Linked DNA regions of Homo sapiens. The gene in region 5 interacts genetically with the main gene of each other region. Each region holds a gene or a part of one and is shown on either strand. Other genes may lie near its edges. The genes, in order: MAP4K4, CRACD, SUPT16H, OGA, ACACA, MYO10 and MBTD1.

Region 1 (3,500 bases), on a different chromosome or scaffold from region 5:
AGAGTAATCAGCCAACAACCCACCCCCCAAACAAGAAAAAAAAAAAAAATCAGTTCTGTTTGAAAGAGATTCCTGTACAGGATAATAAGTTTGTCCAGATAAGGCCAAGCCTGCTGAACCGAATCTTCCTATATTTTATTTATTGGATAAAAAGAATGAAAAAGGCAGATTCCACAAATGACTATAAGAATTTCATGCCAAATACATAATACCGGTCTGAGGACAGAGCAATCATTTTATTTAGATTTTTAAAAAATAAACTAGATAAAGCCATGCAACTATACTTATCTACAGAACAGTAAACAGTGAACTGGCAAGTTTGGGGGAGCTGATCTAGGGTTAAGGGGTTTATATGCAGATCTGAAACATGTTACTTGGGGTTGGGGAGAAGGGTAGGTGACAGAGAAAGCAGGGTGGGAAGGGAAGGGGTGAGGGTGTTGGAAAGGTCTCCTTTGCAAACTAACTCCTAGGCAGTGCTGGTCTAACCCCAGGAAAGCAGCCAGCTGTGGTGCGAGACATACCTCATTAGCAGTGAGCTTGTCCTGGGGTGTCTGTGGGGACATGGTGGGTGTCGGCTGGCTGGAGGATGGGGAGGAGGAGGTGGAGGAAGTGGAGGAGGAATGGCTTTGCTGTAAGAGATCTGGCAAGAGGTGAATGCGACCGGCAAAGCCATTGCTCTCATGATGGCTGGCACGCTTTTGGTCAACTGTACTCTGTAGAAAAAACAGGCACACTTGTCTCGCTCAAGCGCTGCTAAAATTGCCTATGGCCCTATTGATAACTGCTTTAAGGTGCTGTGTGACTTATAAACTCTGCTAAATTACCAAGGAAAAACCAAAGAAATTAGCCTGAACTGCTCACACTTCCTCACCAAATGCCTAACTTGTGCCAACAGAATTCAAAGTACCTAATCTGGTGGCTGCACGGCTCGAGCAGTGAGTGTTTAATCTGGTTTATCTGTTGCGCTAGCTTCTGTTACCAAAACCAGTATCCTTTTTTTTTTCTTTTTAAATCTTTCTTTGCAAAGCTCCAGAAAGTACCTGTGGATTCTCTGAATCCTGGTCTTTTCCACATTCTTCCTACTTTCCATCCGAATGCATTGCCATAGCATGAAACACACTTAGGGCAAAGTCCAAAATACTAAATAGGTGCCCTGTTCTATTTAAATGAGAAGCGTATCACTTTAATTAAGTCTAAGCTAAGAAATGAACAGACAGTTATAAAGCTTAGTGATCCAAACTGAGCATATCTGGGTGGCACACATTTAATTATTCAACAAGTGAGAAAACTAACATTTTGGAACATAGAAGAGAAACCTCCCGAACCCTTCTGCTCTCCGAGTCTCTGGGCCTGTGATGAGGCTCGTCCTGCCTGCCTCACCCGCTCCCACTGTGGCACTGCAGACACTCAGAGCCCAGCGTGCTCTGCAGAGCCATGGTGGCTGCTCTGCCAGACTCCAGACCTGCTTCCTCACTCTGTGAGCCTGTTTAAGGACTCCCTGTGGCTTCTCTCCCGCTCAGACATAGACTGTGAGACTCAGCGCGGTGCTTGAATGAGGGCTGCCGCAGACATGCAGAGGAGCAGCGATGTGGGGTGGAGACTACTCGCTACCTTCTGGGCATGCAGTACACACCTGCCTCCCTAGCCCCCGACACTCGACACTTGACCCTCTGGGACTTGTTAACATGAAAACAGATGATGATGGAGAAACAGCATGAGTGAGTGAATGAGCAAGTGGGTTAATGACCACAGGAGAAGCTCAGCCTCTGACAACAGAGAAGACACGGGTACCTGGCGGACGATTAGAGTGCCCTCCTTGGATGGGGTCATGGCCGGCTCACTTTCTACATCATCATGGACAATCATGGTTTTCACAGATTCCGTTTCACCATTGCTCAAATTCAGAGATGACCTATGGAGAAAAAATCCAGACGTGAAAGGCCTTAATCTCTGGAGTCAAGGAGATCCTGTTTAGGCTTTTCGCCTTCTCAAAATCAAAACATGAGATGAGGCTACCGATATAAAGCCTCCTCCAAAAAAGCAACTGCTTAGCTTTCTCCCTTTAACAAAGAATTTCTTTCCAGTGCCATTTGTTTCTGAGCAAAAACTTAGAATGAATAATTATGGCTAATTAAAGTAGTTATACCAAACTGAAATTTCCCCTGGATCATATATCCTCAAATCAAAAGGAAAAAATAAAGTACACGCTGGGGTGCTGGGGGAAGCACTGACATATGCACACACCAACGAAGAGAAGGGGAAACACAAGGCGACCTGCTGCTGAATCCACGAGAACTACATAGTAAGTGCTCATGGGGTCACGGAATAGTCTAGGAACAACTAGGTCCCAGTGGAAAGCAGGCTCTGAGAGAATACTCTCATCCGCTCTAAAAGAGACCGGGGACTGACGCTGCTCTGGTGTCCTCTGGTCCTGAGGTGGACTCGTCAGCCCCTTCCTGCTCCACATCGTCGTCCTCCTCATCCGTCGTCCCCGACTCCTCACTGGATGAGGAGTAGTCCGTTACTTTGTGAGGTGGCCGTACATCTTCCACTGCTCGAAGCTCTTTGGCCAGTGCGGTCAGATCCTAAAGCAAAGGACAGAAAAGAGAGAGTAAGGCAAGCAGGAGCAGGGACAGGAGAAGATGAGAAGTTCTTTAACCATAAATTGCCACAATGTCAGTTTTGTAAGACTTTTATAGTTACCCAGTTTCATGAGAAAGTGAGCTCCTATGGCTTTTGATAGAAAAGACCAAATAAAGTCAAGAGAGAGATTAAAAAAAAAAAATAGAAGACACCAAAAAAAAGTCAAAGATGTCATATACAGTTCAAATCCCATGACAATAAAAAAAAGATCTGCTTATGTTAAGCTGATAGTATTACTGTTGTTTTTTAATATGAGGTAAAATTCTAGATCAACAAATGTATATACACAGACTCTTGGACTTTGTTGTAAGGAGATCTCCCTACATGACAAAGTCTTCTTTAGACTCATAAAAAAGGTTTTGAGAGACACATTTTTATTTTACTTCAACTTTTATTATTAAAAACTTCAAAGCGCTAAGGTTTAATATTTAATGTTTTTATTTACTAGTTATAGGATATTTATGAAATTTTAGTAATAAATATTAATATTTTACTAAAATCAACATTTTAGGTTTAATATTTTATTAATAAAAGTTGTAGAAACATAACTTCCCTCCCAAAACTCTTTAAATCAGGCTTATTTAACTAGAGGCTTGCTTTCTGGACTGACCCCTTTAAAGAAGACTTTGTCATATAGACATGTGTCTTTACACCAAAGCTCAAGGATCTGTGTATATACATTTGTTGATCTAGAATTTTACCTCATACTGAAAAAAAAAAAACTTCAAACCTACATTAAAATGAAAGGAGTGAAGTGAGCACTAGGATGCCACTGACATCTCACTTCACCGACTGTTCACAACCTGCCACATTCATGGACAAGTCTGTGACACATGAAGAGACACTGCGACCCTGAG
Region 2 (3,500 bases), on a different chromosome or scaffold from region 5:
TCACTGTGTTGCCCAGGCTGGTCTCAAGCAATCCTCCTGCCTTGGCCTCCCAAAATACTAGGATTACAGGCATGAACCACTGCGCCCAGCCTAAACTTTTATTTTTGCACAGTAAGAGATGCATTTTACTTTGCCACCCAGTATACAGATACATTGTAAATATCTGTAATTAAAAAATTCATGAAGTAATGCTTAGACTTTGAATGTGCAATGCATTCTTATATTTTTTATTCTATTTTATTTAAAAAATGTTGGTTGAGATCGCTAAATGATTTCACATCCCATTAATGGGTCAGGAACTACGCTTTGAAAAGCACTAATGCTAAGGATAATCAGGTTAAGTGCATTTAAGAAAGCTGTTGTTGAATCTTTATTTCTTTTCTTCAAATGGTTTACAACATCAATTGGAGTTTGAATACTAAATTACATTTAAAAATAAGTTCTTAAACATTTCTTGGGAATTACCATCATTTATTGAATATTTCTCATGGTCACGTTACTGTGTGCTAAGTAGTCTATTTATATATGTTATCTAATTTAGTTCTCACAACAGCCCTGTAAGTAGGCCTTGTGTTTACATTTGATAATTGAAATTAAGACTCAGAGAGCTTTTTATTAACTTGCCCAAGGTCCTAAATTTAGAGAGGGATGAAGCAAAGATTCAAACTGAGTTCTCTCTGATCCCAAAGCCTGTCTGCCCTCTTAACCCCCATGGTTTTCTGATGTTCCCTCATAGTGATTTCTGAAGATGTTTCATTTCTTCCTTAACATAAATTTGAATGTCGATATTGAGAATTTACCCATTGTGGTACATCTTTTGTAGTTTCCTTTGAAATGACTCATTTCAAGTCAGTTTTCAACTTAGGGAAGTTAAGGAAGCATAACGTAATTCTTTCTGGCTTTAGCTGGTCTTTGATGTAAATATTTTGTAAGAGCTTCTCAGGTTTTTGTGATAGAGTCAATTAATTGGTCATTTTTATTGAGCATCCAAAGGTTTAATATATCTTCCTAAGAGACATGAAATAGCTGTGTAACTATAAAAAGACTTCATTACGAATGAATGTCGGCTTTTGTTAAGGCACAAAATGAAGCCTTACAAGCTACAAAAGAGTACTTCATAGTGTATTGATTGGTCTTAAAATCACAAGGTGCTAAAAGTATTTACTTTGTAAAGTACTTTAAGAAACCACCACCAAGTATCCTATTAGCGTTTTTTGTTTTTTGGTTTTTCAGTTCTTTACACGTTTCCTATGTGTATTTGTAGCAGTATTTTAATTTTAATATTTTGATATTTCTAGGACTTCCCTCTTTGAAACACATTGTCAGGAAGAATTAAGGCGTTTTTCAGGAAATATATTTTATAAATAATACTTAGAATACACAAATAGATGCTTTTATATAATAAAGGCAAATTTCACTTTTTTTTTACATTTATATCTTCTACATTAAAACACCTATGGTGTCTGGTTTGCATTATTGCTATTATATGTAGGAGTGTAACTCATAAATAACATGATTACCAGGTGCCTAAAAATGTATAAATATGCCACTGCTCTTGCATTATAGCTTTGGATACTCCTGTGTGCATGAGGCTTTAAACTTTTAACCATATATTTAAACAGTTTATTTGTTGAATTAAGGTTAGTGTTTTCAAAGCTGACAATTTAAAAATCTGAATTTGTGTAGATCATGATGATATGTTAGACAAAGAACAGTAGTTTCATGGTTTATTTATGTGGTTTGAGTAGCCATATATTTCTGTTCATCAGTCTTTTTAAATTAAGATTTGATGTAAACAAATATAGATATAATTGCATTTATTTTTGAACATCAGATTTCATCCTTAGGCTGGCCCTCAAAATATACTTTGCAGCTAATGAAATTGTGTAAAGTTGCAGCAAGCCTGTGTTTTATGCGTATTTATTAATTCTGTCTACTACTTGACCCTTAGTGGATTGTTACAGTTTTTGTGAGCATCAGGACATGGCCCACTTATTGGGTGGTCATTGTAATTTGTATGTTCAGGCAGATACAAAACTTGGCTACCTTTACATTTTGTGTCCTGTTTATTCTTTTATTCATTTATGTTTTTATTTATGTATTTCTAGGGTCTTGCTCTGTCACCCAGGCTGGAGTGCAGTGATGTAACCATGGCTCACTGCAGCCTCTACCTCCTGGGCTCAAGTGATCCTCCTAGCTCAGCCTCCTGAATAGCTGGGACCATAGGCGCATGCCACCACATCTGGTTAATTATTTTTTGTAGAGATGTGGTCTCTCTCTGTTTCCTAGGCTGGTCATGAACTCTTGGGCTCAAGTGATCTACCTGCCTTGCCTCAGCCTCCCAAAGTGCTGGGATTACAAGCGTGAGCCGCCACTCAGTGGCTCCTTTTTATCCTGATGTGAAAATTCATAGAGATAAGAACGAAATCAATTTAGATATTAATTTATTCTGGTGGCTTTAAGGCAGATGCATATGCATATTTTAGGTTTACATAGATGTATGATTTTCACACATATATGAGAAGTACCAGATTATAAACTCTTCTCTAAAGTAAAGAAATACATATTAAGTAACTTTGTGGAAATAAAAAAACTGAGTAACAACCCTGAAGAGATGTTTTTATAGTCACATGTTGTCAGCCTTATAGTCACATGTTATCAGACATATTTAAGAAGCCAAATAGAACAACCATATGTAAAAGCTTTTATATGTGAAAAAGTGATACCATTTAAAATGTCAGAAATGGAAACATAAATATTTCAGTCAGATTTTTAAAGTCTTCACCAGGTCTTTCAGATGTTTCCAGTGTTTTTCAAGTGGCGTACTTAGGGGATTGAGAAGAAATGTCGAAAAACTTGCTTTTGAAACTGGTACTGTATTCAATATGAATTGAGGAAAAGACACAGAAGCTGCATCCCTGAAACACTTTAAAAAATATTTAAATCAGAAGTAAATTTAGCCCACTAGAAACGGTTGTTAGAATAGAGTTTAAGAGCAGGTAGCAGCTGCTAAGAGGAATTAGAAAAAGGAAGGACAAGTTGCTAAAAAGGCATTTTGTTTTTACCAGGGAAGGTAAGAACGATCTTATCTGGAGGCTCACTGGCCTCACCCCACTCACCTGGGGAGGGATTGGCTGGCAAGAAGGAAGATAAGGAGACAGGGAGCGGGAAACAGGTTGTCTGAAAACTTGATTATTATTTAAATCTAGGATAAGCCGGATTCAAGGAATAATCAGCGAAAATTCTTGTATATAATTGTTAACCCCTTGTTAACAATGGGCTGTTTCCTCACTTGGGAGAAATAAAAAGGAGAGGCCATAGTCCCAAGATCACCATTTGTGAAAGAGGAAACATTACTCCAAACCCCATTGCCAATACCATTTATGGTCTCGGGTGGGGGCCACAGCTCATGTTCTTAGGGAAGATTGTGACAGATCCAGCAGGGCTGTTAAGACACTGCTGGTGAATTCCAGGCTGCCCTAAATGATTGCAGTCAGGAT
Region 3 (3,500 bases), on a different chromosome or scaffold from region 5:
CTCCTTTTAATTCTAGGATGGCCCAGCTACTGTTCTCACTTCTGTGAAGAAGAAAGTGAAGAATGTGGGGATTTTCCTAAAGGTAGGAAGAAGATAGATAAGTAGTATAGGAAGTTTAGGATATAAAGAAGTTAAATAATATTGGCTAAAATAATTAAAATTTCATTTTTTGATTATGACTTTTTCCATAGAATGAAGATGAGGAAGAAGAGGAGGAGGAGAAAGATGAGGCAGAGGACCTTTTGGGAAGAGGTTCTCGGGCAGCATTACTTACAGAAAGAACAAGAGTAAGTTTACTATTTTAAATTACATTGATCTCGGCTGTCATATGGCTCACGTGTTGTGATAAATTGGATTTTCCATTCACCAGAATGAAATGACTGCAGAAGAGAAGCGAAGAGCACATCAGAAAGAACTAGCGGCTCAACTCAATGAAGAAGCAAAGAGGCGATTGACTGAACAAAAGGGAGAACAGCAGATTCAGAAGTAAGAGTTTTCACTGAGCAGTGAGATCATCTGAGGGTTCTGTGGGACTGCAGAAATTTCTCAGTTGTTTTTTTATCCCACTCCAGAGCTCGCAAGTCTAATGTGTCCTATAAAAACCCATCTCTGATGCCTAAGGAACCACATATTCGGGAAATGAAGATCTACATCGATAAGAAATATGAGACTGTAATAATGCCCGTGTTTGGCATTGCAACACCGTTTCACATTGCCACAATCAAGGTACTGACATTCAGTGCATCAGGTTTCATCCAAACTGTTGCTTAAAATAGTAATTGTATTTGCCATAAATAATCTGCATTCATCATGTCTCCCACTTTTGACTCCTTCAGACTCTGTTCAGTTACTGACATCCCTCTTGTCTTGTCATTCTCCTTCCTCTTTCAGTTTTTTTCACTTAGTAGAAAGCTAAACTAGTCTAGAAACATAATTTGCCTATCTTTCTTTCAACTTCGTTTAATCATTGTTTAACTTTTAGTTGTATTCATGGTACAAGGTACTTTGAGAATTCAGAGATTTTTTTGGGAAAAGGATACTTCGTTATTAAAAAGATAAATTATGTAAATTTATTAGATTTAGATTAAGGTTAAGAGCGGTCAATTTGTAACTCCTAACTTAATTTTAACATCTCTGTAACTACTAATCTCTAGGAAAGAAATCTGTTTACTTTTTATGCTTTTCCTTTGAACAGAATATAAGTATGTCCGTGGAAGGAGATTATACTTACTTGCGAATCAACTTTTATTGCCCAGGCAGTGCTCTGGGCAGGAATGAAGGCAACATCTTTCCTAACCCTGAAGCGACTTTTGTCAAGGAAATGTGAGTCCCCAAGAAAAGTCATACCCAGATTCATCTTGTCTGGAGTGGTACTCTCAGAAACATTTCATTGTCTGTGCTACATTTTCCCTACCTAGTAAATGTCAAAGCCTTCCTCATTGGTACTTGTTTCGGATCGCCTTCTTGACTTTGTACTATTTTCAGGATGGATCCCAATTTAGAATCTTCTTGAAGATACTATATATTTACTAAACATATTTTGAGCCTGGGTAATATAGTGAGACCTTGTCTCTTCTAAAAAATAATTAACCAGGGGTGGTGGTGTGCACCCGTCATCCAGCTACTGTGGAGGCTGAGGTGAGAGGATTCCTTGAGCCTGGGAGGTTGAGGCTGCAGTGAGCCCTGATCTTGCCTGTACTCCATCCAGCCTGAGCAACAGAACGAGACCTTGTCTCAAAAAAAAAATAATTATGAAAATAAGTGTTAAAAGTAATAAACATATATTGCAGTAGAATCTTCAAATAAGAAAACTGGTGCCACATTGGATTCTATGATTTCATGGTGTGAAATGGGATAATTTGGGGATGTTATACCAGATTTGAAAAATGAAAAAAGAAGGAATGGGCATGCATGGTGGCTCACGCCTGTAATCCCAGCACTTCGGGAGGCAGAGGCAGGCAGATTACATGAGGCCAGGAGTTCAAGACCAGCCTGGTCAACATGGCAAAACCCTGTATCTGCTAAAAATACAAAAACTAGCCGGGCATGGTGGTGTGTACCTGTAATCCCAGGTACTTGGAAGGCTGAGGTGGGAGGATGGCTTGAACCCAGGAGGCGAAGGTTGCAGTGAGCTAAGATTGGGCCACTGCACTCCAGCCTGGGTGACAGAGGCACACCCTGTCTCAAAAAAAAAAAAAAAAAAAAAAAGCAAAGTAGAGATTAAGCTGCTTAGAAGATAAAGTAAATCAGTACAATTTCCCTGGCCTGAAAAAGAAATGTCTATAAATGCTGTTGCTTTTCTGCAGTACATACCGAGCATCAAATATTAAGGCACCCGGAGAACAGACAGTACCAGCCTTGAACCTTCAGAATGCTTTCCGAATTATTAAAGAAGTACAGAAACGTTATAAAACTCGAGAAGCTGAAGAGAAAGAGAAGGAGGTGAGCCTGAACACAGGCAAAACATTCTTACACAAAGAAGGACATGTATTTTTTGGAGACTTGTAAGGATATGTGACAATTCACATTAATTTTCTTCTTGCTTAGGGGATTGTAAAACAAGACTCACTGGTGATCAATCTAAACCGGAGTAATCCGAAACTGAAAGATCTATACATTCGCCCAAATATTGCCCAAAAGAGGATGCAAGGCTCACTGGAGGCCCATGTCAATGGTATGGATGATCTCTCCTGTACCTAGGCTTTCTCTTCAGGGCACATTTGTTAGGAATGACAGATCAGATAATAAAATATGACAAAGAGCCATCCGCCGGTTAGCTCAGTTGGTTAAAGCATGGTGCTAATAAAGTATGACAAGGAAATGCTGGGAGGAATCTACTTACACTGCTGTGTGGCCAGAAGGAAAGGAAAGCTCTATACAGCTGTTGGTGTTTCCTCTGACCCTGTGCAAATCAGCCAGAAGAGTTGCAGTGCCTTTTGGCCTAACTTAATTATACTGCTTGACATTTCTTCATTCTTTTCCCCAGGCTTCCGCTTCACATCTGTTCGAGGAGACAAAGTGGATATTTTGTACAATAATATTAAGCATGCTTTGTTCCAGCCCTGTGATGGAGAAATGATTATTGTCTTGCACTTTCACCTCAAGGTATACCTTTCTACTTAACTAGCTGTCAGCTCTTGGGCAAGACACTTCATTTCACTCAGCTTCTTTCCTATAAAATAGTGATGAAAGGGCTGGGCGCGGTGGCTCATGCCCACAATCCCAGCACTTTGGGAGGCCGAGGTGGGTGGATCACCTGAGGTCGGGAGTTCGACACCAGCCTGACCAACATGATGAAACCCCGTCTCTACTAAAAATACAAAAATTAGCCAGGCGTAGTGGCCAGCGCCTGTAATCCCAGCTACTTGAGAGGCCGAGGCAGGAAAATTGCTTGAACCTGGGAGGCGGAAGTTGCAGTGAGCCGAGATCGCGCCATTGTACTCCAGCCTGGGCGACAGCGTGTGAAAAACAAAAAACAAAAAAGTGATGAAAAAATCACC
Region 4 (3,500 bases), on a different chromosome or scaffold from region 5:
AAATAAAGCTCAGTAAAAGACATGTTGTGTTTTCAAAAGAAAAATTGTGGCTGGGTGCATTGGTTCGTGCCTGTAATCCCAGTGCTGTGGGAGGCTTGAGTTGAGGTAGGAGGATCGCTTGAGGCCAGGAGTTTAAGATTAGCCTGGGCAACATAGCAAGCCCTTATCTGTACAAAAAAATTTTAAATTACTGTGACATGGTGGGGCACACCTGTAGTCCCAGCTACTTGGGAGGCTGAGGTGAGAGGATTGCTTGAGCTCAGGAGCTCAAGGCTGCAGTGAGCCATGATTACTCCATTGCACTTCAGCCTGGGTAACAGAGGAGACCCTGTCTCAGAAAAAGAAACGTTGTTATAAAATGTACATGTAAGGGGCCAGGCGCAGTGGCTCACGCCTGTAATCCCAGCACTTTGGGAGGCCGAGGCAGGCGGATCACAGGGTGAGGAGATCGAGACCATCCTGGCTAACACAGTGAAACCCCATCTCTACTAAAAAATACAAAAAATTAGCCAGGCGTGGTGGAGGGCGCCTGTAGTCCCAGCTACTCAGGAGGCTGAAGCAGGAGAATGGTGTGAATCCAGGAGGCGGAGCTTACAGTGAGCCGAGATCACACCACTGTACTCCAGCCTGGGCGACACAGCGAGACTCTGTCTCAAAAAAAAAAAAAAAAAAGTACACGTAAGGAAAACAATAAAAAGTTATATATGCAGTATATTTTAAAGAACCATGATTCTTTTTTTTAAATATATTTTTTAATTTAAAATAAAAAGATAGGGTCTCGCTGTGTTGCCCAGGCTGGTCCGAACTCCTGGGCTCAAATGATCTGCCCACCTCTGCCTCCCAGAGTGCTGGGATTACAGTTATGAGCCAATGCGTCTAGCCAAGAACCATGATTCTTTTAACGAACGGTTGTCGTTATTTCTAGGTCCCAAAGTTGTTTCTAAAGAAATTCCAGTAGAGTCCATCGAAGAGGTTTCTAAGATTATTAAGAGAGCTCCAGTAATCTGGGATAACATTCATGCTAATGATTATGATCAGAAGAGACTGTTTCTGGGCCCGTACAAAGGAAGATCCACAGAACTCATCCCACGGTTAAAAGGAGTCCTCACTAATCCAAATTGTGAATTTGAAGCCAACTACGTTGCTATCCACACCCTTGCCACCTGGTACAAATCAAACATGAATGGAGTGAGAAAAGATGTAGTGATGAGTAAGTAGCCTGTACTTGATCTTTCACCTTGGGAGGAGAGCTGGGGTTAACTAGAGCCAGTGGAAAGTATGCATTCCTTTGTCATCACAACTTAAACAGTTTTATTTATTTTTTTAAAAACGTATTTTGTTTTACTAAGGAGGAAACAAAACCAAGTGGTTTTATTATGGTATGTTGTTTCATTCTGTTGATGAAGATGTATATGATAGAAGAAAGGTTGAGTGTCTTTGGACAAGTCACTTAACCTCTTTGCCTTAGTTTTTTTTTTTTTGTTTTTTTTTTTTTTAGTATGATTCAGAAGCAGCGTGGTGGCTCGCTTATAATCCCAGGAAATGCACTCCAGCCTGGACAACAGATGAAAATCCTATGAAATAAATAAAAATAAAATATGGTTCAGTCTTTGAAGTCTGAGTACTAGAGGAGACAGTCTTTTAAGTGTTTCCATTATCTCTAGAATCATTCGGATAAAATGTATTTTCAGGCAATTTTATTGAAAAGGATATTTTAGATAACTAGATACTCTTGAGTCACTTAGATCATTTAGATTCAGCTTACATTTATCTTTTATGGAACATACTCTTTTTTTTTTTTTTTGAGATGGAGTTTTGCTCCATCGCCCAGGCTGGAGTGCAGTGGCGCAATCTCAGCTCGCTGCAACCTCTGCTTCCCAGGTTCAAGCGATTCTCCAGCCTCAGCCTCCCGAGTAGCTGGGATTGCAGGCACACCCGGCTTTTTTTTTTTTTTTTTTTTTTTTTTAAAGTAGAGACAGGGTTTCACCATCTTGGCCAGACTGGTCTCGAACTCCTGACCTTAGGTGATCCACCTGCCTCGGCCTCCCAGAGTGCTGGGATTACAGGCATGAGCCACCCTGCCTGGCCGAATGGAATACAGTCTTATTTTAGACATTGGCTTACTAATTTTTAATTTATGAAAAATCTCTAATTAATAGAGTTCTAAGTAAGGTGCTTGATAATTATTTACATTTAAATAATCTGTCATGGGGCAGATGCATGTTCATGGGCACTGAGGGGGCAAAGAATAAAGTAGTTTTTTTTTTTTCTTTTTGAGATGGAGTCTTGCTCTTGTTGCCCAGGCTGGAGTGCAGTGGCGCAATCTCAGCTCCCTGCAACCTCCGCCTCCCAGGTTCAAGTGATTCTCCTGTCTCAGCCTCCCGAGTAGCTGGGATTACAGGCATGCGCCACCATGCCTGGCTAATTTTGTATTTTTAGTAGAGACGGGGTTTCTCCATGTCAGGCTGGTCTTGAACTCCTGACCTCAGGTGATCCGCCCTCCTGGGCTTCCCAAAGTGCTGGGATTACAGGCGTGAGCCATCGCGCCCAGCCATTCCTACTTTTGAGAAACAGTCTAGTGTTGGGTAAGGCTTATAGGCAATTGTACTATAGTGTGATAAGTGTTGTAATAGTTTAATTTATAAAGTGCTGTGTGAACACGGGAGAGAGTGATTATTTTTGCTAAGAGATTTCACAGACTTTTAAGCTGGATCAAAGTATGAGGAGAGTTTGCTGGGCGTTAAAGGTTTGTGGGCTGGAGGTTAAAAACACTGAACACTGAAAATTTTTTTTTTTCTTTGAGACAGAGCCTCGCTCTGTTGCCCAGGCTGGAGTGCAGTGGCGCGATCTTGGCTCATTGCAACCTCTGCCTCCCTGGTTCAAGCGAGTCTCTGGCCTCAGCCTCCTGAGTAGCTGGGATTACTGGCGCACACCACCCCATCTGGCTGATTTTTATAGTTTTAGTAGAGACAGGGTTTCACCATGTTGGTCAGGCTGGTCTCGAACTCCTGACCTGGTGATCTGCCTGCCTCTGCCTCCCAGAGTTCTGGGATTACAGGCGTGAGCCACTGTGCCCAGCCTGAACACTGAACTTTTGAAGTTCCCTGAATTTTGGCCCATTTTGGCTACTGAAGTGTCATGATAGTATGTAGTAATATTAATAGTTGTCATCTGTTTCTCAATTCCATACCTCTGCTTTGAATTGTTTATTGAATTAATGTCTCCCTTTTGTTTGGCTCAGTCATTGTCATCCTCCTCCCCTCAATAAAAAACAAATTGGGAATATAATTTAAATGCTGTCAGCGTACATGGCACTTAACTCCTACATCTTTTAAGGCACAGCAAGGAACATACTAAGGGTGGCAGACACTATCCAAACCTGGGACATACGTAGGAAATATTAAGGAAAGCTAAGAATAGAGAGTTTTTAAGTACAAAATCAAAAAATTCAGACTTAATTTTCTCTACCACTATCCTGGCTCAGAGCTTTGTTGCCTTAT
Region 5 (3,500 bases):
CTATTTATTAGTAATTAATACTAATAAACACTTATTAATTACCTACTCCATGTACAGTACAAAGGTAAAGGGAATGGTATTAAATGTTTGATACAAGGCAATAAACCATTAAAAAACAGAAAAGAACTAGTTCAAGTTTCAATTTTAGATAGATATTCCAAAAGATCTAAGCTGTTAAAATTACCTCCTTCAGCCCTATGTTTTAGGCAAGCAAAAGTGCTGTTAATTTAATATTCATTGTTTATGATTAACAGAATATTATCTAACATTTATGATATAGCAGTTATATTTGCATAAGCTGTTATATACAGCATGCTAAGGTCTCTTGTATTAGCAATGTAGACAGTTTCTTTATGTCCTTTTCATAATATGAGCAGTATAATTTTATTATTTTAAATAACTATAAGAGTACATCATGGTGACTATGGCTCATAACAATAGATTGTGTACTTGAAAATTGCTAATAGATTTTAAGTCTTCTCACAAGAAAAAAATAAAATAAAAGTCTATGATTTATTTGATACCTAGTTCTTGGCCAAGAATCTACCTCCCCTCAATAACAATACTGTTCCTGTGGAAAAATAAGATACCTTTAAAGCAATCAATTTTATACATTTATCAAAAATATTTGAAAGGAAAAATACTTCAAAAGGCTCAGAACAACAAACAGAAAAACATCTGCCAAGCACTGCATAATTTAATACAACATGAATGCAAGTGTAATTAAAGATATTCAAAATTTCTTCAAAAAGGTTGTTCATATTATTACTTTGACAGCAGATGATTCCTATTCCCATGCTCACACCTTCACTTAAGATTAGCACAAATTTATTTTGTAAAATGCAATCAAATGCTATTATACTCACGAAATTGCCTCTTCTCTGTTTTCTCCCCAAGAAAAGCAGTGACCAAACTGAGAATCAGCAAATTCATGAAGTCCCCCTGCAGCAGCAACACTGAAATATCCCCAAACATTCTTATTGCTGCGGAAATTTAGCTCCTGAACTGTTCCTGAGCTGGGCTTAAAACCCTGTTAGAGAATAAAGAATGAGAGACCATATTATGTTTCGAAGGAAGAGAAGATTTATATATTCATTGTTTAAGTTCTCTGTTAATCACACACAGAAGCAGAGAAGACACACAAAAATGATAAAGGCCAAGACCCAGTGCCACAGACCCACTGAAGACTCTACAGTGACTTAAGTGGGATTAAGTAACCAATGAAGCAACAACCATTTACTTATCTGCTCTGAGAAACCTCTATGTTTCCCACTCCAGAGGAAGTCCCAAGATATTTCAGAAGTATACTTTCAGATACTATCTTAACATTAAAGTTCATTAAAAGGAGGTATAAACCTTTTAAGTGATGGGTTACCTCATCTGGATTTTCACTAGTGATCCGAGCAGCAATAACATGGCCCCTTGGACAAGGAACGTGTGCAGAATCTTCAAAATCAATGGGAGAATCACCCCAGGGAGATACCCCATACATCATACGGATATCCTTGATTCTATATAGAGGAATCCCCATGGCAATCTGAAAGGTAATAAAACACACATCTTTAATTTTTCAGTTACTTCCCTTAAAGTGTAGAGGCTATCAGATAACCTAAAATATTTTTATTTTTGGAGCCACTCCCTAAAACATTCTATTTTTATAACCTGTATTCTACAATCATCAACTCTAAGTTGCTTGAAATACAATATATCACTACAGATAAGTAGTTAGAATATTCTCCACTTCTAAAGAAGTCCCCACATTCCTAATGCAACAGACACCAGTTCCCCTGTTGTCATTTCTCCATCACGTAATAAGAATGAAAATATCCAACAGAGGAGTAAATGTTAATAGCCATCCAAAAACAGACAGCTAGAAAGTCTTAATTGTGTCATAATTATCTCTTCCATCCCTGCAAACCACTGGAGGAAGTAAGTAAATCTTTAGTCTTTAATAGGAACCCAGAAGGTGTTCTCGATGTGGGCAAATGTTAGATAAAAATAATATCAAGCCTTATCATTAACTATTACTGCTTTCCATAATATTTGTTTCCTGGGCTGAGAGAAGACAATAATATTGACAGCAAGCACTTTACAAATTATAAAAATATATGTGTGCTACCACACTCTTGTAAGGAAAAACTTCAACCACTAATCTCTGATGCAGAATTATTTCAATAAAGAACACTAGTAAAAAAACAAAAATGAGTAGGGAATAATTATAATACAAAGTTGTGAAGTTTACTATAGCTAAATAATTGAATAAAGCATACATTATTAACATTTATTTCTAAAACATGACACATTATATCAGATGTGTCTGGCTAGAAAAAATAACATTCCTATGTCTGTACTACATCAGGAAAACCAAACCACACATGCATAACACATACAGGGTGAAAGAGAAATGACCATTAGGTGTGACTCAGATAGGAGGTGCTTTTCTCTTATCACACACTGGTTAAACCCATTTTTCAGGCCTCTCTGACTTTTCTAGGCTCTGCAACCCAGATCAGGGAGACTCACCTGGAGCTGTGCTGCAGGGAGATTGACATCAGCCACCATCTCTGTACAAGGGTGCTCTACCTGCAGCCGAGGATTCAATTCCAGAAAGTAGAAGCTGCCATCCTGGCTGTACAGGTATTCCACAGTCCCAGCACTCACATAACCCACCATTTTGGCAAGTTTCACCGCACACTCAAAGAAGAGAGATAAGCAAACATAAGTATCTCACCTTATCCAACTGCTAGACCACTACAGCCTCTCACTGACTCAACTGTTCAGTGTGTATAAGAGCCATCAAAAGCTTTTAGCCACATGAGAGCACATTTCTGATTATTATACAATATCCCTGGACAAGGATGAAAAACTCAATGAAAAATCGGGAGAAAAGAGCATTTTTCACTTTGCATCAAAAGCAACCTCACCCCACCAGACATAAATGCATGCAGACAAAAAAACATGGGGACAGACTCTTGTCCAGTTTCCAGTATTTCCAATATGCTCCTCTTCTTCCTAGAAACATAGCTAACTAGTTAGAGACTAGATTTTTTTTTTTTTTTTTGAGACAGAGTCTCACTCTGTCTCCTGGGCTGGAGTCCAGTGGCACAATCTCGTGGCTCACTGCAAACTCTGCCTCCCGGGTTCAAGTGATTCTCCTGCCTCAGCCCCCCAAGTAGCTGAGATTACAGGCATGCGCCACCATGCCTGGCTAATTTTTGTATTTTTGGTAGAGATGGGGTTTCCCCATGTTGGCCAGCCTGGTCTCAAACTCCTGACCTCAAGTGATCTACTCGCCTTGGCCTACCAAAGTGCTGGGATTACAGGCGTGAGCCACCATGCCTGGCCTGGTTAGTGGCTAAGTTTTGACAAACAGGACACCAGCATTGGTAAGTGATATGCATAACTCCCAAGTCATATATATATATATATATATATATATATATATATATATATATATATATTTTTTTTTTTTTTTTTTTTGGAGATGGAGTCTCGCTTTG
Region 6 (3,500 bases), on a different chromosome or scaffold from region 5:
AATTGCATCTGTACTGAACATGTAGACTTTTCCCCATGGATTTTGGTATCTGGGGAAGGTCTTGGAACCAGTTCCCTATAGATACATAGGGACAACTGTACTTACCATGTGCCAGGCATGTTGCTGGCACTTCACATTTAGTGACTCATTTAATCCCTTGAACAACCCTATGGGAAAGGCTCTATAATTATACCCAATCCATAGATGAAGAAAGTGAGGCACAGAGAGGTTAAGTAACTGACTCAGTGTCACACAGCTAGAAAACGATAGCCAGGATTTGAACCCAGACAGGCTGTGTCCAGAGCCACAGAGAGTTCTTCACTGCCATGCTTTTCTGTCCTGTTGATGTCCTTTGCCTTAAACTTGCGTCATCTTCTCTAGGCTCTCTGATGAAATGCCCTAAAAGTGGGCAGTTATTAAATGATTTTCAAGTGGAAAACTGCATGGGAGTTTAGGAAAACAAGTAGTCCACACCCTAGAAATGTTGAAAACTCCGCAGGAAAATGTTCATCAGCTTTTGAACATGCCACTGATTTGGCCGGGTGCAGTGGCTCATGCCTGTAATCCCAGCACTTTGGGAGGCCGAGGTGGGCGGATCACGAGGTCAGGAGATGGAGACCATCCTGGCTAACACGGTGAAACCCCCATCTCTACTAAAAATACAAAAAATGAGCCGGGCATGGTGGCGGGCACCTGTAGTCCCAGCTACTCGGGAGGCTGAGGCAGGAGAAGGGCGTGAACCCAGGAGGCGGAGCTTGCAGTGAGCTGAGATCGCGCCACTGCACTCCAGCCTGGGCGACAGAGCAAGACTCCGTCTCAAAAAAAAACCAAAAAAAAAACATGCCACTAATTTTTATTTGATTTGCTTTTTTTGGGAAAGCCAAGCGCCTTCTGTTTCCTTCTAAAAATGTGTGTGTGTGTTTTTGTTGTTGTTGTTGTTTTTTGAGATGGAGTCTTGCTCTGTCGCCCAGGCTGGAGTGCAATGGTGTGATCTCGGCTCACTGCAACCTCCACCTCCCAGGTTCAAGCGATTCTCCTGCCTTAGCCTCCCAAGTAGCTGGGACTACAGGCGCCTGCCACCACACCCGGCTAATTTTTGATATTTTTAGTAGAGATGGGGTTTCACCTTGTTGGCCAGAATGGTCTCGATTTCCAGACCTTGTGATCCACCCGTCACAGCCTCCCAAAGTGCTGGGATTACAGGTGTGAGCCGTCATGCCCGGCCCATAAAGTGTGGTTTCTAAAGCTGGTTGTCCCAACTTCATGAGGATAGTAGGAAGGTTTACATACTAAAGCACTTAGGGCCATGTGCTCATGCCTGTAATCCCAGCACTTTGGGAGGCCGAGGCAGGTGGATACCTGAGGTCAGGAGTTCGAGACCAGCCTGGGCAACATAGTGAAACCCTGTCTCTAATAAAATCCAAAAATTAGCTGGGCGTGGTGACATGGGCCTGTAATCGCAACTACTTGGAAGGCTGAGGCAGGAGAATCGGTTGAATCCGGGAGGTGAAGATTACGGTGAGCCACTGCACTCCAGCCTGGGTGACAGAGGGAGACTGTCTCCAAAATTGTAATAGTAATAATAAAAATATTAAAACAAAATAAAGCACTTAGAAAACAAGATGATTTGAGAAGTGTTTATTAAAAGAAAATGTGGGACTCATTTGTTTCCCTAATTCCAGCTGTCAATTAATTAGTGAAGTGTTACTTGAGGTTTTTTGATAGAATCTTCTTTTTCAGTTAAAGATTCTGAGTGCTTTGTTGGAGTTTCTTCATATCACCTATCATTTGCTTGTTAGCTTATCGATACCCATGGAACAGTTATTGACAGGACATTGGGTCGTTTTCCCAAGAGCATTCCTTGAATAAAACATTTTGCTGCCTTGCTAAGAGGTGTTCAGAAAATATTTCCACCAGGCCTAAAGTAAATCTAGCACCTCATGTCACATGACATCATGTCATCTAATGCTGCCAGTTACAGGAAAAGACATTAGAGTTTTGGGGACAAAGCCACAACACATCTGTTGAAATACAGCTAGAACAAGGGAGAAACATATGGGAATTGTCCAACTAATAGCTCTACCTTCACCCAGTCCGACTCCCTGCCTGCTCTTAAGGATTAAAATTGCCTCCGTATAAAAGCATTTTAAATTACGGCAGTTAAAGGCCGGGCGCGGTGGCTCAAGCCTGTAATCTCAGCACTTTGGGAGGCCGAGGCAGGAGGATCACGAGGTCAGGAGATCCAGACCATCCTGGCTAACATGGTGAAACCCCGTCTCTACTAAAAATACAAAAAACTAGCTGGGCGTGGTGGCTGGCACCTGTAGTCCCAGCTACTCGGGAGGATGAGGCAGGAGAATGGCATGAACCTGGGAGGCGGAGCTTCCAGTGAGCCGAGATTGTGCCACTGCACTCCAGCCTGGGCAACAGAGCAAGACTCCATCTCAATAAATAAATAAATAAACAAACAAACAAAAGAAAATACCATAAGCAGAAGACACAAAGAAGCTCCCATGGTGTGGCTCTTCATGTTTGTGGTAGATGCATTGAGACTTTTTTTTTATGCCTTCATATATATGTTTCTGATAAAACACACCTGTAATGTTTTTCACTGAAGAGTTGATTGAGAAAAGCTTTAAATATCATTTGTGGGGCCAGAGGCAAGAGTACAAATTCAGTTCCCATATCACATACCTAAACATTTAAAAGTTATAAACCATGCTTACAAATTGGTAAATAAAATGGCTTCTACTCTGCCTGGACAAATACATCTGTCATTAGGGCAGAATCAACAAACATGTTTAAAGCTATGGGTTTTATTGCTGAAAGTCAGCAAAATATCAAACATGAGTGAATTTAATTACAGTTGCCTATGTCTGGGTGTTCTGTTGATGTTTCATGAGTAATAAATACGTATACTCCATAGTATATTTTTCATAAATCTATTTTTTTGTCCATATTTTAGCAAACTCACTTGTTATGTGGTTAGAGTCAAGATTGTCACAATAGTTTGTTTTACGGACAGTAATACCAAGGTGGAGAACCTTTCTTTGTGGTTCTTAGATTGTTCTTTTTTTTTTTTTTGCTGGGACAGAGTCTTCCTCTTTCGCCCAGGCTGGAGTGTAGTGGCGCAATTTTGGCTCACTGCAACCTCCACCTCCCGAGTTCAAGCAATCCTTCTGCCTCAGCCTCCCACGTAGCTGGGATTACAAGTGTGTGCCACCATGCCTGGCTAATTTTTGTATTTACAGTAGAGACGGGGTTTCATCATGTTGGCCAGGCTGATCTGAAGCTTGTGACCTCAATTGATCCACTAGCCTTGGCCTCCGGAAGTTCTGGGATTACAGGCGTGAGCCACCCCACCTGGCCAGATTGTTCTTTTCTTAATCTAAGTCTAGAGATGGCCTGCTTTGCTGAGGCAGGACAGTAGTTACTGACATTGTCAGCGAAATTCATACAGCACTATTTAGATTAAAAAAAGAATGAGATTGCATATGATA
Region 7 (3,500 bases), about 14 Mb from region 5:
CATTGTAGTAAACAGAAAAAGAGAGCCACTTTTGCGTTAGACTAAGTAGGCACACCAGTGTTTCTAGAGAGGGGAGGGAAATCTGTGTAACATGGAGGAATTATTGCACTCAGCAGTATAAATCATATAGGCCAGGTGCAGTGGCTCACGCCAATAATCCCAGCACTTTGGGAGACTCAGGTAGGAGGATTGCTTGAGACCAGGAGTTTGAGAACAACCCGGGCAACATAGGGAGACCCTGTCTCTACTAAAAACAACAAAAAATTAGCCTGTCACAGTGGCATGTGCCTGTAGTCCCAGCTACTAGAGAGGCTAAGGCAGGAGGATCACTTGAGCCCTGGAGGTTGAGGCTGCAGTAAGCCTTTGAGGGCACTACTGCACTCCAGCCTGGGCGACAGAGCAAGACCCTGTCTCAAAAAAAATAAAGTTGATCATATAACCTATGCTCTTAAGATTTTTTGTACTGTTACTTTTTGTCTGCATTTTAATATTATGCTAATTTTAAATGAACTGCTAGTTAAACCAGTTGTGTTTTTTAGGTTACACAAAACTTCCTTTTAAATGGTTTGACTACCTCAGGGAAACTGGCTCCATTGCAGCACCAGTAAAACTATTTAATAAGGTAAATTTAAATGGCAGCATAATTATGTGAGGACTTATTAATGCCCCACAAATACAATTTATGTTCATAAAAATGTCTTTGCCTTGTATTAGAATTTCTTAGTGGAGATATAATATAAACAAATATAGCAATGAAACAATATAAATATTTTCTTTACCTAGGAATCAAAACTTGTTTCCAAACTATGTTTCGTTTTTAATCTGAAGGAAATAGAAATGAAGATTTTTCCTAACTAGTTTTTAAATACTTCACCTTCGTACTATGTTTAAATAGTTAAAGAATTATTTGGAATTTATGGTTTATAATTATGTTATTTAGCTAGTCGCTTCTGTTTTTTGCTTTCTTAGTGATAGTAGGGTTGTGCATTCTTTCTTCTTCATACCAATATTAATGTTTTCTTCTCTGTGTCAGGATGTTCCAAATCACGGATTTCGTGTAGGAATGAAATTAGAAGCAGTAGATCTCATGGAGCCACGTTTAATATGTGTAGCCACAGTAACTCGAATTATTCATCGTCTCTTGAGGATACATTTTGATGGATGGGAAGAAGAGTATGATCAGTGGGTAGACTGTGAGTCACCTGACCTCTATCCTGTAGGGTGGTGTCAGTTAACTGGATATCAACTACAGCCTCCAGCATCACAGTGTAAGTTGGTATACAGAAAAGGTGTCCTTTTGTAAAAATCAGCAATTCTCCAGAGGACTATCTCACATAAGTCATCTTATGAGCTCACAGGACAAGAATATACCTATGTCTGATTGGTTGCCAGGTAAGACATTAAGACTCAACAACAATATCACAGAATCAGACCATGTGTCCCATGGCAATGTGAATCCAATAGTCAATTACATAATGACTATAGAAACACAACAGTCACCAAATTAAACTAGACTTACTATTTTAGTGAGTTAAAAATTACATACTAAAAGTTTATTGGTAGGTAATAAATGCTTTTGAGTAAATAGTGGAAAATGTCTCATGTTGAGGCTATGGTTTTGTAGGAACAAGTACCCTTATTTTCAGAGCATCATGTACTTAAGTATAATGGTCTTGGTAAAGATAGTTCATATAAGTTGTATCTAGACAACTGTATCGTCTAAATTGTAAACAATTATCTAGTACCAATTTTCCCTTTTTATTTTTCAGCATCAAGAGAAAACCAATCAGCTTCATCAAAACAGAAGAAAAAGGCTAAGTCCCAGCAATACAAAGGACATAAGAAAAGTGGGTCACCACGTGGTGTTCACATACATTTTCTAATTGTTAACTAATTGGAGTCACAGTATTCTTGGACAGAAAATGATATATCTTGTGAGAACTGATGATTGTGCATTATGTATTATGCTTAAAGGTGCAGTATGCCATAAAAGGCAAACCCTTGCAATAATGAGAAACACTGATATTTTACTAACAGGAGAAATTATTACCACAGTATTTAAAGTATACGTGGTAAAGAATAGAGTCTGTGAATGATTCTTGAAATAATATGTAAAACCTACTGAAAGTTAATCCTTTTTAAAAACTTTATTTAAAAAGAAAAATTAGCAGCCAGGTGCAGTGGCTCACGCCTGTAATCCCAGCACTTTAGGAGGCCGAGGCTGGCAGATCACAAGGTCAGGAGATCGAGACCATCCTGGCTAACACGGTGAAACCCTGTCTCCACCAAAAATACAAAAAATCTGCCGGGCGTGGTGGCACACGCCTGAAGTCCCAGCTACTCAGGAGGCTGAGGCAAGAGAATCACTTGAACCCAGGAGGCAGAGGTTGCAGTGAGCCAAGATCACGCCACTACATTCCAGCTGGGCAACACAGCAAGACTCTGTCTCAAAAAAAAAAAAAAAAATTAGCAGATGCTTGATGCTTACAGTAGATGTGAAGCCTAATAAACCCATTTTTCCTAGAAAGCAAAACTTTCTAGAGTGATACTGGTAAGAAATCCAAGTTGATGGCAAACAAGCTTTACCAAATTTTTCTAGAAATGCTTTCTATACTAAAAAATTAGCCGGGTGTGGTGGTGCACGCCTGTAATCCCAGCTACTTGGGAGGCTGAGGCAGGAGAATTGCTTGAACCCAGGAGGCGGAGGTTGAGGTGAGCCGAGATCGTGCCATTGCACTCTAGCCTGGGCAACAAGAGCAAAACTCCATCTCGAAAAAAAAAAAAAAAAAGAAATTCTTTCTATACTATATTTTACCTTACAGTGAATTGTTGGCATAAGCCAAAGTAATATAAAATATATTGATAACTATGTTTGATTTTTTTTATCTTATTTCCCCACCATAGAAAGCCATAGCTTTCTCTCTTCATAAAACTTGTCATAGAATGTTTCATTCTTTTTTGAGACAAGGCCTTACTTTGTTGCTCAGGCTGGAATGGAGTGCAGTGGCACAATCTCCGCTCACTACAGCCTTAACCTTCCCTGGCTCAAGCAGTCCTCCCACCCCAGCCTCCTGAGTAGCTTGGACCACAGGCATGTGTTGCCACACACCCAGCTAAGTTTTGTATTTTTTTGTAGAGACAGAGTCTTGCCACGTTGCCCAGGCTGGTCTCAAACTTTTGGGCTCAAGCACTCTGCCCACCTCAGCCTCCCAAAGTGCTGGGATTACAGGCATGAGCCACCACACATGGCCATATTTCATTTCATTCTTAGATAAGGTTATATATATATATATATATATTTTTTTTTTTTTTTTTTTTTTTTTTTTTTGAGACAGAGTCTCAGTCTGTCGCCCAGACTGGAATGCAGTGGTATGATCTTGGCTCACTGCAGCCTCGACTTCTCGGGTACAAGCAATTCTCCCACCTCAGCCCCTGGAGTAGCTGGGACTACAGGAGTATACCACCATGCCCAACTCGTTTTTATATTTTTATAGAAATGG

What was found.
Region 1: changes in ACACA (region 5) and MAP4K4 together harm fitness more than expected from each alone (negative genetic interaction), as found in Homo sapiens cells (one large-scale study listed by BioGRID).
Region 2: changes in ACACA (region 5) and CRACD together harm fitness less than expected from each alone (positive genetic interaction), as found in Homo sapiens cells (one large-scale study listed by BioGRID).
Region 3: changes in ACACA (region 5) and SUPT16H together harm fitness more than expected from each alone (negative genetic interaction), as found in Homo sapiens cells (one large-scale study listed by BioGRID).
Region 4: changes in ACACA (region 5) and OGA together harm fitness less than expected from each alone (positive genetic interaction), as found in Homo sapiens cells (one large-scale study listed by BioGRID).
Region 6: changes in ACACA (region 5) and MYO10 together harm fitness more than expected from each alone (negative genetic interaction), as found in Homo sapiens cells (one large-scale study listed by BioGRID).
Region 7: changes in ACACA (region 5) and MBTD1 together harm fitness more than expected from each alone (negative genetic interaction), as found in Homo sapiens cells (one large-scale study listed by BioGRID).

The regions. Positions count from the first base shown.
Region 1 is NC_000002.12:101,868,707-101,872,206, reverse strand, and holds part of MAP4K4 (mitogen-activated protein kinase kinase kinase kinase 4), read right to left. Parts: intron 2,586-3,500; coding exon 2,410-2,585; intron 1,913-2,409; coding exon 1,792-1,912; intron 714-1,791; coding exon 522-713; intron 1-521.
Region 2 is NC_000004.12:56,052,098-56,055,597, forward strand, and holds part of CRACD (capping protein-inhibiting regulator of actin dynamics), read left to right. Parts: intron 1-3,500. UniProt on the Homo sapiens protein: Involved in epithelial cell integrity by acting on the maintenance of the actin cytoskeleton. Positively regulates the actin polymerization, by inhibiting the interaction of actin-capping proteins with actin.
Region 3 is NC_000014.9:21,360,020-21,363,519, reverse strand, and holds part of SUPT16H (FACT complex subunit SPT16), read left to right. Parts: intron 1-16; coding exon 17-82; intron 83-191; coding exon 192-287; intron 288-370; coding exon 371-486; intron 487-572; coding exon 573-726; intron 727-1,195; coding exon 1,196-1,323; intron 1,324-2,306; coding exon 2,307-2,442; intron 2,443-2,547; coding exon 2,548-2,674; intron 2,675-2,986; coding exon 2,987-3,105; intron 3,106-3,500. UniProt on the Homo sapiens protein: Component of the FACT complex, a general chromatin factor that acts to reorganize nucleosomes. The FACT complex is involved in multiple processes that require DNA as a template such as mRNA elongation, DNA replication and DNA repair.
Region 4 is NC_000010.11:101,801,445-101,804,944, reverse strand, and holds part of OGA (protein O-GlcNAcase), read left to right. Parts: intron 1-925; coding exon 926-1,210; intron 1,211-3,500.
Region 5 is NC_000017.11:37,256,837-37,260,336, forward strand, and holds part of ACACA (acetyl-CoA carboxylase 1), read right to left. Parts: intron 2,695-3,500; coding exon 2,524-2,694; intron 1,538-2,523; coding exon 1,376-1,537; intron 1,031-1,375; coding exon 867-1,030; intron 1-866. UniProt on the Homo sapiens protein: Cytosolic enzyme that catalyzes the carboxylation of acetyl-CoA to malonyl-CoA, the first and rate-limiting step of de novo fatty acid biosynthesis.
Region 6 is NC_000005.10:16,926,289-16,929,788, reverse strand, and holds part of MYO10 (unconventional myosin-X), read left to right. Parts: intron 1-3,500. UniProt on the Homo sapiens protein: Myosins are actin-based motor molecules with ATPase activity. Unconventional myosins serve in intracellular movements. MYO10 binds to actin filaments and actin bundles and functions as a plus end-directed motor.
Region 7 is NC_000017.11:51,190,550-51,194,049, reverse strand, and holds part of MBTD1 (MBT domain-containing protein 1), read left to right. Parts: intron 1-539; coding exon 540-622; intron 623-1,033; coding exon 1,034-1,268; intron 1,269-1,769; coding exon 1,770-1,847; intron 1,848-3,500. UniProt on the Homo sapiens protein: Chromatin reader component of the NuA4 histone acetyltransferase complex, a multiprotein complex involved in transcriptional activation of select genes principally by acetylation of nucleosomal histones H4 and H2A.